Homo sapiens: one gene and its partner. The protein of the gene in region 1 purifies or fractionates together with the protein of each later gene. This does not show direct contact. Each region holds a gene or a part of one and is shown on either strand. Other genes may lie near its edges.

Evidence for each region. The genes of interacting proteins can lie anywhere in the genome.
Region 2: the proteins of TLR1 (region 1) and TBC1D24 purify together in Homo sapiens (affinity purification with mass spectrometry, with the first as the bait; one large-scale study listed by BioGRID). This does not show direct contact.

What each region holds. Positions count from the first base shown.
Region 1 is NC_000004.12:38,798,073-38,802,924, forward strand, and holds part of TLR1 (toll-like receptor 1 precursor), read right to left. Parts: intron 2,877-4,852; 5' UTR 2,785-2,876; intron 827-2,784; 5' UTR 760-826; coding exon 1-759. UniProt on the Homo sapiens protein: Participates in the innate immune response to microbial agents. Specifically recognizes diacylated and triacylated lipopeptides. Cooperates with TLR2 to mediate the innate immune response to bacterial lipoproteins or lipopeptides.
Region 2 is NC_000016.10:2,481,010-2,486,343, forward strand, and holds part of TBC1D24 (TBC1 domain family member 24), read left to right. Parts: intron 1-2,009; exon of another isoform or gene 2,010-2,077; intron 2,078-5,334. UniProt on the Homo sapiens protein: May act as a GTPase-activating protein for Rab family protein(s). Involved in neuronal projections development, probably through a negative modulation of ARF6 function. Involved in the regulation of synaptic vesicle trafficking.

The DNA.
Region 1 (4,852 bases):
GTTGTTTAAGGTAAGATTTGATAACTTTGGATTTGTTTGAAGTTTCGCCAGAATACTTAGGAAGTAAGAACATTTGTTATCTTCTAGCACACATTTGATATTAGATAGTTCCAGATTTGCTACAGTCTTGACTGACACATCCAAAATAAAATGGAATTCTTTGTTTGTGGGGAACACAATGTGCAGACTCTCAGTGTTAAAGTCTTGAAGGCCCTCAGGGTCTTCTTTTTCCCCATAAGTCTCTCCTAAGACCAGCAAGACCTTGCTGATATTCAAATGAGCAATTGGCAGCACACTAGATTTTTCTAAGTGTGTGGTGCTCAACCCCAGAAATTTTAGTTGAGACATATTGCCAAACTCTTTGCATATAGGCAGGGCATCAAATGCATTAAATGACAGGTCCAAGTGCTTGAGGTTCACAGTAGGGTGGCAAGAAATCTTCACCAACTTGTTGTGGGACAAATCCAAGTATTCCAATTCCTGGTTGAATTTGAAAACACTGATATCAAGATACTGGATTCTATTATGAGAAATTATCAAAATCCTCAGTTTTGACAGTGATAAGATGTCAGAAGTCCAAAGCTCAGATATATAATTTTGCGATATATTTAAGATTGTTGTTTTCTGGGATAGGTCTTTAGGAACGTGGATGAGACCGTTTTTTGACCTATCAACTAAAAATTCACTTTCTTCAGATAATTGTATTCTGATCTGAAGTATTAACATGAAGATAATGGCAAAATGGAAGATGCTAGTCATTTTGGAACACTAGACATTCCTAAAGGTAGAAGCTGTTCTTCAGATCATCTTGATACAGATACAGATTCTAGAAAAAAAATAATGAAATGATGAAATACATTACATACATTTTTAAAATACACGAAATTAGTCATGGCTGACATTAAACTTTTTTTTGTTACAGACTTATAAAGTGGAGGCTACATTCTTTTGGGTTACATGGCCTAAAACTAGAGAAGTATATATATTGGTAAATAATGATGCCAGCTCTAATCAAATAAGTTTTAATATGGATGGTGTAATAGGTTGAATGGTGGCTCACCAAAAGATATGTCTACATCTTAACCATGTCCTAATCCCCAGAAACCATGAATGTTACCTTCCTTAGAAAAGGGGTCTTTGCAGAGATAATAAAGTTAAGGATCTTGAGATGAGGAGATCATCCCAAATTATCCAGGTGGTCCATAAATCCAATGACAAGTGCTTTTTTAAGAGAAAGGCAGAGGGATATTTGACAAAGAGACAAGAGAAGAGGCAATTGAGACACAGAGGAGAAGGCCTTGTGACAGTGGAGGCAGAGACTGGAGTGCAGCAGCTACAAGGCAAGGAACATCAACAGGCGCCAGAAGCTAGAGGAGGCTCTGGAGTGATGGTGGCCCTGCTGACACCTTGAGTTTCGACTTCTGCTCTCCAGAACGTTGAGGGCAAAGCCACCACGTTTATGATCATCTGTTACAGCAGCCTCAGGAAACTAATACAGGTGGGTTCATAGAAAGTTTTCTGGCCCCAAGCTTCCCAAAATTATTTAGAACTCCAGCTAAGACTCAACTGGTGTACTTTCACTCTTTGACGTACATCTCCCCATGACTTTCTCAAGAGGTGTTCCTAATGGTGGTATTGGGACTGCTCTTCTATTACCCTTTATGACCTATACACGGTTTGGGTCTAACTTTGGTCTTACTCAAAAGGTAATTAGATCCTGATAAAAGGCCTCTCAGAAGATCCATTTATTCATCCATTTATTTATTCAACCAGTATTTATTGATCACCTACTGGCCATGTTTTAAGAACTGGAGATAGAGCAGTGAACAAGATAAAGTCCGAATTCTCAAGGAGTTTTTATCTAGTGGGGAGACAGAAAATAAATGAATGACTAAACTCAAGTTCCTGTAGTGATAAGTTCTGTAGAGAAAAATAAAGCAGGGTAAATTGTAGGTATGAGACAGTGCTTGGGGGTGGCTATTTTTGAGTGATTAGTTAGAGAAGGCCTTTTTGAGATGATGACACTAGAGTAGAAATCAAAATGAAGTGAATGAGTAACCTATGGGAAGATCTGGGTAACCTACAGCATTTCTGGCAAAAGAAAAGGCAAGTATAAAGGACCTGAGATGGAATTGAGCTTGGCTTGTCTGAGAAGGAACGGGAAGGTCAATGTTAGTAAGGAGTTAGGGAAGATGAGAGGAGTTAGGGCCAAGATCACTCAGGCTTTGTTGATCATTGCAAGGAGTTGGGATTCTATTCCAAAAATGATGAGAGGGTGGAGAACACTGGGAGGTTTTGAGAAAGGGAGTTGTTTCCTCCTCTCTCTTATTCAGAATACTTTTTTCATTCATTCATCAAATATGTATTTATTCTCCATGCAGTGGTAGGCACTGTTCTAGGTTATGCCTATTGTACCAGTATTCAAACTGCTCTAGCTAAGACACCATTTTGTGGTCAGCATTCCAGTGGCGTATGAGAACAGAGGGAGCTGTGTTGGGATGAACTCTAGAGTGTGCAGTCCTCACCTCCAGAGACCCTTTCAGCCGTGATTACACAGCTACCCAGTTCTCACAAGGAACTTATTCAAAATCCCCTAGAACCATTAGACAAGCAGGGCATTAGTATCAGCAAAGCACCAAATTCCTCTTCACATATCCCCTCCCATATCTCAATGAGCACAGAGAACCTAAATAATTTAGCTGCTACAAACAACCCTCGGTTACAAAAGTTCCCCAATTTAGATGTGCAAACTTATCTGGGTTTTGGAGCCTTCCTTGGACTTACCCTTTTGTAGGGGTGCCCAATATGCCTTTGTTATCCTGATTTCTTCTAACGAGGAAGAGGGCCTGGTACCCCTATTAGTGTTCATGAAGACCCTGAGCAAGGAAGATGATGCAGACATTAATGTTCATGTTAAAAGTCAAGGTGGTGTTTTTATGACATTAACTGTATTTGGCTGAAAGACCCGGAAATTTCCCAATTCTTCCTCTCCAGCTTCCTTAAAGAGCTACTCACACAAGGAGCAATATTTCAATGGATGTTATAGCTTGAATGTTTGTGCCCTGTGAAATTCTTATGTTGAAATCCTAACCCCCAAGGTGATGGTATTAGCAGGAGAAAATTGTGAAGTAATTAGGTCATAAGAATAGAGCCTTTATGAGTCAGATTAGTACCTTTATAAAAAAGACCCCAGAGAGCCTCAGGCTGTCATTCTGCCATATGAAAATACAAGAAGGAGGCATCCGCAAACCAGAAGAGGGCCTTCGCCAGAACCCAACACTACCACCCTGATCTTAGACTTCTACCTTCCAGAACTGTGAAAAGTAAGTGTCTGTTGTTTATAAGTCACCCATTCTGGTACTTTGTTACAGCAATTTAAACAGACTAAAATAATGGGAATAAAAATAATACCCTGGGGCAGTGCCAAGCTAGGTCGAAGCAAAAGTGGCCTGGTCTTAAGGCCTAAGTGGGGTTCCCTGCTTATTCCTATGCCTGAATCCAGATCAAGGCTCTTTCCACCTCCTAGCCAACTCCAGAGTTCATGGAAGCAGTGATCAGCACAGTCAGGCGTGGTATTCAAAAGTGATCAGAGGCACACAGGACCCCGTGCATGAGTGCGAGAGCTTGGCTCGCAGAACCTACCACACGCAAGATGAAAGTTGTCCTTTTTCCCTTAACAACAGCTATCATCACAAAAATATATAAATTTATATAACTGCCTGCCCCCAAGTGTTAGAGTAGGTACTTAGGCAGACATGAGCAGGACAGGAGAGGGGCCCCCCAACCAGGAATATCAGGTGACCATCAGGTGATGATCAGGCAGTTGTTAAACAGTCTCTCTAAGCCGGGGGCCATGGCTCACGCCTGTAATTCCAGCACTTCGGGAGGCTGAGATAGGTGGATCACTTGAGGTCGGGAGTTTGAGACTAGTCTGGCCAGCATGGTGAAACCCTGTCTCTACTAAAAATACAAAAATTAGCCGGGCGTGATGGCAGGTGCCTGTAATCCCAGCTACTGGGGAAGCTGAGGCAGGAGAATTGCTTGAACCCAGGAGGCAGAGGTTGCAGTGAGCCAAGATCATGCCATTGCACTCCAGCCTGGGCAACAGGGCTAGACTCTGTCTCAAAAACAAACAAACAAAAACAAAAAAACAGTCTCTCTAGAATAATAATTGTTTGCAGCCAGCATCAGGGAAAGTCAGTCTCCTAATAGATAGAAAACACACCTGAAGCTGGTGGTTAGCAGACTCCTGACAAACTCTCAGGAGCTGGGCAAGCAGGCTTGAGCATGCATACCAAGAGGCAAAATGGCGGACTTCAACGGGTATGTGACCTTCCTCTAGGAAGACTTGTCTGGCAAGGGAAAAATGTCTCCAATGAGCATGTACACAACTTCAGTAAACACAGTGTGTGTGCAGCCCATCCCAAGGGCTGGCAGGCCACTGCACATGCAGACAGCCCACCCCAAGGGAAGAATCAGGGGAGAAGAGACGCAAGACTCCAGAAGCCTGCCAACAAATAAGCCCCAAGTAATAGGTTAAACTGGGCACTTGGATCTCTCAAGTTGCCCACTTGGCCCTCCTCCAAGTGTACTTTATTTCCTTTCGTTCCTGATCTAAAACTTCTTAATAAACTCTCTGTAAGGAATATGGCTGTGCTTTGGTCAAGGATAGGCCAAGGTAAACATCCAGAGTGACTCAGCGAGTTTAGAGCGCAGGCGTATAACTCACTTTTTATCATAGCCATGTAGACATAACATAGAGAAGCTTACCATAGCCATAACATAGGGAAGGTTCATCCCTTGGCTCTAAGCCACTATTGTCCGTAAATGGTATAATTGCCCTGCTGACGCT
Region 2 (5,334 bases), on another chromosome or scaffold:
TGGGGCCCTGTCCTTTGACCACGCTGTCTCTATCCCTTCTGAGGCTAAGGCTTCCTCACACTGCAAGATCCAGCCGAGGCAGGCCTTGGCGCTGGGAAAGCACCGTGTCACAGCACCTGCACCTTGAATTGGCATCGTCAGTACACCTGACCCGGGCTGGGGTGGGGCCATGCCTCTGTACTCCTCTGCACTCAGGTACCTGGCACACTGGCATTCGGGAAGCATGTCTTGAATGCCTATTAAAATGATTAGGACCGGGCGTGGTGGCTCACGCTTGTAATCCCAACACTTTGAGAAGGCAAGGTGGGAAGATTGCTTGAGGCCAGGAGTTTGAGACCAGCCTGGGCAGCATAGTGAGACTTTGTCTCTACCAGACATAAAAAGTAAATAAAAATAAAATGATTAAACATGCACAACTCCACCTCGAGCTGGATCTCTCCTTAGGTCTAAAGACACTTGCTGAGAACCTGATGTGTGCCTGGCCTTCCAAGGCACACCTGTCACTGGCTTGGAACTCAGACCAATCAAAATGCCTGTGCTGCTGACAGCTGAGCTCTCTTCCTCTGGTTCTCCTCCTGTGTCCTGGGGGTGTTTTTCCAGACCTGCTGTGGGGAGAACCTTTGGGCTCAGATGATAAAGATCCTGAATTAGCAGAGTCCTGTGCCAGCTCCAGCCCCTGCCTTTGGGTGGACCGGACTAGGCTGGGGAAAGAAAGATGTCTGGCTATGAAAGGGTGGCTGGCCAAGGTTGAGGCTCAGCCTGCCCCTGCTCAGGCTCCGAGCAGCAGGCTCAGCAGCCACAGTTAGGCACGTTTGCACTTCCAACCATCACAGGCAGGCGGGCCAACCGGCCCATGGTGTGGTGACTAACACCTCATTAATGGTCATACCCCTTCTGTACCTGGCATGTGCCCTCCATTGTGTGCCTCCGGCAAAGAGCCCACTATCAAGTTCCCCAGTCAGCAGCTACTTGGTAGTCACTGTGGCATGTCGGTCACCATTAATATTTGAAAGATGCCTGTGCTCTGCTTCAGGCTGAGGCAGGCACCCCTTACCTTCCTGTTATGTGAAGATGCCTGCAGGAAAGGTCACACCTAGGGTGGGTGGACTAGTAATGCTCCCTGTTGTTATTTGGCCTTCAAAATTAAATTTGTCTTGGGCCCAAGTGGTTTGCGATTTCTCTGAGTCTCTGCCTGTTTTCTTCTCTGTTCCCTCCTTCCCAGGGTACACTGGACATAGTGTGAGACGCTTGGGTGCAGAAGTCACGGTGTGGTAGCAGGGCTGGGTGGATAAGCCAGCACCACGATGGTGGGTGTGCTGGGCAAGGGTGAGGACAGATGTGGACAGGAGGCGTGGAGCTCTGTGACGCCTTGGCCCTGCCCCAGAGGTCCCATGGAGGCCTGTGAAGGAGGGGCGATTGGACTGAGCAGAAAGCGAAAGGGGACAGGTGTCTCCTGCCACTCTGAACAGTGACATTCCCACAGTGTAGTGTGGGGACTGCAGTTGGCACTGTGTGGCCAGGGCTCCGGAAGCTGTTGTCCGAGGGGCAGGGAGGGGCTGGGTCCTGAAGGGCGGGGGACACCAGGAGAGGGTTTCGGGTGGAGAACGGTGACCGGGTGAAGCCCTGAGTGGGCAGGAGGCTGGGAGTGGGAGCTGAATTGCGCTGGAGTCACATGGAGTGTGAATGTTGTGACTGTACCGGAGACACCTGGGAAGCAGCTGGAGGGACAGGTCTGGACCTCAAAGAAGGATTCTAGGCTCAGGAGAGGGTGGGCTCCATTGGAGAGACAGGCACGGGCGGTGGAGGAGCAGCCGCGGAGAGGTGAGGGGATGCCTGGCAGGGAGGCAGGCGGGATGAGGCCCAAGGCAGCTGGGAGATCTGGCGGCCAGCGCGGCCAGCGGCGGGAGGGCCGGAAGCTGGGTGTCATCTGCTCTTGCCAGCCACTTGGCTCAGAAGGAAAACGGAGAAGAGGTGGAGCTGGAGTGGAGCCTCAGGCCCTGTGGTTTGCTGTGTTTGGGGCCTGCTGTCACAGCACTGGGAGCCTTGGAGAGAGATGGGGAGCTGGGATCCCCAGGAGGTGAGAGCCAGGACTGAGGGGGGGCCTTGGTCTGTGGTGGGAATGCAGAGAGCTGGGAAGCTCACGCCTGACAAGCCCCCTTTCTTGGGGTAGAGTGGGTGGGACGGGGCAGCTGTGAGCTGGAGAGGAGAGGGTGTCGGTGAGGAGTGCTGCGAAGGATGCCAGGTGGCACCGGGGGCTGGGCCACTGGAAACCGCTGAGCAGGCGGCAGGACTTCTCCCTCTCCCCTCGGCCGTTCTCGTGCCTCGGGCTCACTTCCTCGTGCAGTTTATCCATATGGCTGAGACAGGAGCGTGGGGTTGGCGGGCGGGAGTTGGGGCTTGGCAAGACGGTCCAGGCTGAGCTGGCAAGAGAGAAAAGCCAGAGTGGCTGGTGGATGCGGGGAGTCACAGCTCCGAGTGGGAGGAGGGCGCTGAGGGCTCTAGGAGAGGGTATGGGCAGGTGTATGAATGTGCAGCCTCTGGAGTGGGTAGAGTGGTTTTCTGGAATGCCCGGGGACTGGATAAAAAGGTAGAGATGTAAAGGCTTTTAAAGTTCTAGAGGCCACGGAGCTTTCCAGCCAGGACGGTGAACTTGGCCCTCAAGGGAGGGCAGCACAGAGAGGAAGGCCCTGAGCTGGAGAGAGAGGAGGCGGGTGGTGATGGGGAGAGCCCGGCTGCTGCTCGGCCCAGAGGAGGAAGGGTACGTTCGGGAGAGGATGAAGACTTGGGAGTGGTGTGTTTGCTGTAGACAATTTCCAGAGCAAGAAGGCAGGCTGGGAGCAGGGGCCGGGGGTAAAAGGCAGATAGCAAGGTAAGGAGGTGTGGGGGAAGACCAGCGGCTGTGCTCACCGTGGTTAGTGACACTGTCACCATCCAGCCCCGGTCAGACATGGTCCTATAGCTGAGGGTCTCACCAGGCAGTGGGGGCACAGGTCAGGGGAATGGGATCGCCAGAGGAGCATTCTCAAAATGTGCCTGTGCAGGCATCTCCCACCCCTGACATTCTGCATGGGAGGACCAGGGGGTGGCCACCCTACATGCAGCAGACCCCTGGTGGTCATTCTCCTCTCAGCCTCCCGTCCTCCCCTCCCCACCTCACCACCCCCAGTGGATGTTTCTGATGGCTGTGGCCTCTGCACATGCCCTCCAGGCTGCCACACCACAGATCTTTCTGGAATAAAAGCTTGATCTCACCTCTCCACCCCAGTACTCTGGTGGTGCCCTGTCACTATCGGGATGGAGTGGTGAGCAGGCCTTGTTACCCAGTTCCCCACCCCCACTGCTTAGAGCAAGTCTTGTATTTCCCTGCTGCTGAGTGCAGATCCTCCCCCTGCCACCCCAACGCCCAGTCTGCCCTGCCAACCCCAGCACGCTGTAACCGCCTTCTAGAAGGGCTTCCGGAACCCATCCAGCTCCCTGGGGCATGCGACCACCCCGGGGCCTCTCTGCTTCTACACATGTCTACAAAGCCACTTTCTGACCTCACTGTCAGGTGACCGATTTCTCTCTCAGCTCTTCCTAGCTCAGTGCCAGGCACCTAGGAGGCACTCAGGAGAAGGTTCCAGAAAGAACGGGTACACCTGAGTGCACAGACAAGTCCAGTGGCTCTCTTCCGTCGTGGTCCACTGTGCCAGCTCCATTGTTCCAGGGCTGAGGCCTAGGGCGGTGGGGCTATATGGCAGGAGGAGTGTCTGCACTTTGGGCCTCTGCCTGGGATTTATTTGTGTCTCTGAGGCATCCAGCAGACTCTTGGAGGACAGGATGAGGTGTTCCCTGGCCTTTCCCAGCACGTAGGTGGGAGGCCTGGGCCCCTCATGAAGAAATCAGACTTGGCGTGGACTTGCAAGGAAGGTCCCCCAGCCGGAGGAGGCGTCATCCCCTCCCTGGGGCTGAATGCTGGGGCCACCTCTCCCCTCATGCCTGCCATCCACACCCCGCTCCAGGTCTGCTTTTAGGCCCCAGTCCCTGCCCCATCTAGTGTGTTCTTCCAGCCTCCCTCCACCTACTCTCCCAGCACCTCTGTGATGTTGTGAAATATCTATTTGGTCTTTGTCCTTGTTTAGTGACATACAACTCCTGAAATCCTCAGAATCTCCGTGGTGCTCTTTCTGTGCGCTGGTGTTGACTGATAGCTTCCGGGTGGCGCTGGTCACTGGAAAGACCAAGGCAGGATTAGCGGGTTAGAACTTTCAGCCCCACCCCCAACCGCGGGGAGGGGAGAGGTCCAGAGGTGGAAGGTCAAGTTGATTGCCAGTGGGGTAATCAGTTATGCCTACTTAACAAGGGCTCCATGTCAACCCTAGAAGACAGGACTTGGAGAGCTTCTGGACAGCTGAATAGGAGGGAGTGCCTGGAGGGCAGCACCGTGTCCCTCTCCCGTACCTCACCCTAAAGGTCTCTTCATCTGTGTCCTTTGTAACAACCTTTATAATAAACTAGTGAATGTAAGTGTTTCCCTGAGTTCTGTGAGCTGCTCCAGCAAATTCATTGAACCCAAAGCAGGGGTTGTGGGAACCCCAACTTGAAGTTGGTTGCTGAGAAGTTCCAGAGGCCTGGACTTCTGACTGGTGTCTGGAGACGTGGGGGGCTTGTGGGATCTGAGCTATCTCCAGGTAGATGTCTCCCGGTGTCGGGATTGAATTGGAGGACACCCTGCGGGCGCCCGCTGCAGAATGGATTGCTTGCTGCCGGGAGAAACCCCCGCATCTTCTGGGTCGCAGATCCTGTGCCGATTGCGGTGCTGGCGTCAGAGCAGAGGAAAACGTGGTATGAGAGTTTTTCCAAAGAGTCCAGACACGCTTCCAGGCCCTCTCAGCCACCCCCACACCGTCCCTACCATTCCCACCTGGCCCGCTGCTGCCTGTGCCCCAGGGTTTCCGGGCACTCCGAGCTTCCCTGGCAGGCAACAAAGCTCTCATCCCTGGATCTTGCGGATCTCGCGCCCGGGCTGGAATGCCTGTGCTGCCCTCCCCTGCCTGGCGGGTGGGGTCGGTGCTCAGGAGCGGGTGGGGCCTGCCGGTCTCCCTAGCCCACCACCAGGTTTCCTCTGTATCCCCGCAGCACTTGGCAAGGTCCAGGGGCTTCCGTGGGGAGCGAGATTGTTTTGGATCCCGCCAGGGGAGCCCACTGAGAGGAGCCTGCATCTCCTATCACGTGAAGCCCGCAGGGGCCACAGCACCTCCTTCCTGTGGTCCCTAGCTGCGGGCGTTGGCGTTCCCCACCCATGGGGCCCGGCCTCATTTCCTCTTCCTCTTCATTCCCGGTCCCACTCCCAGG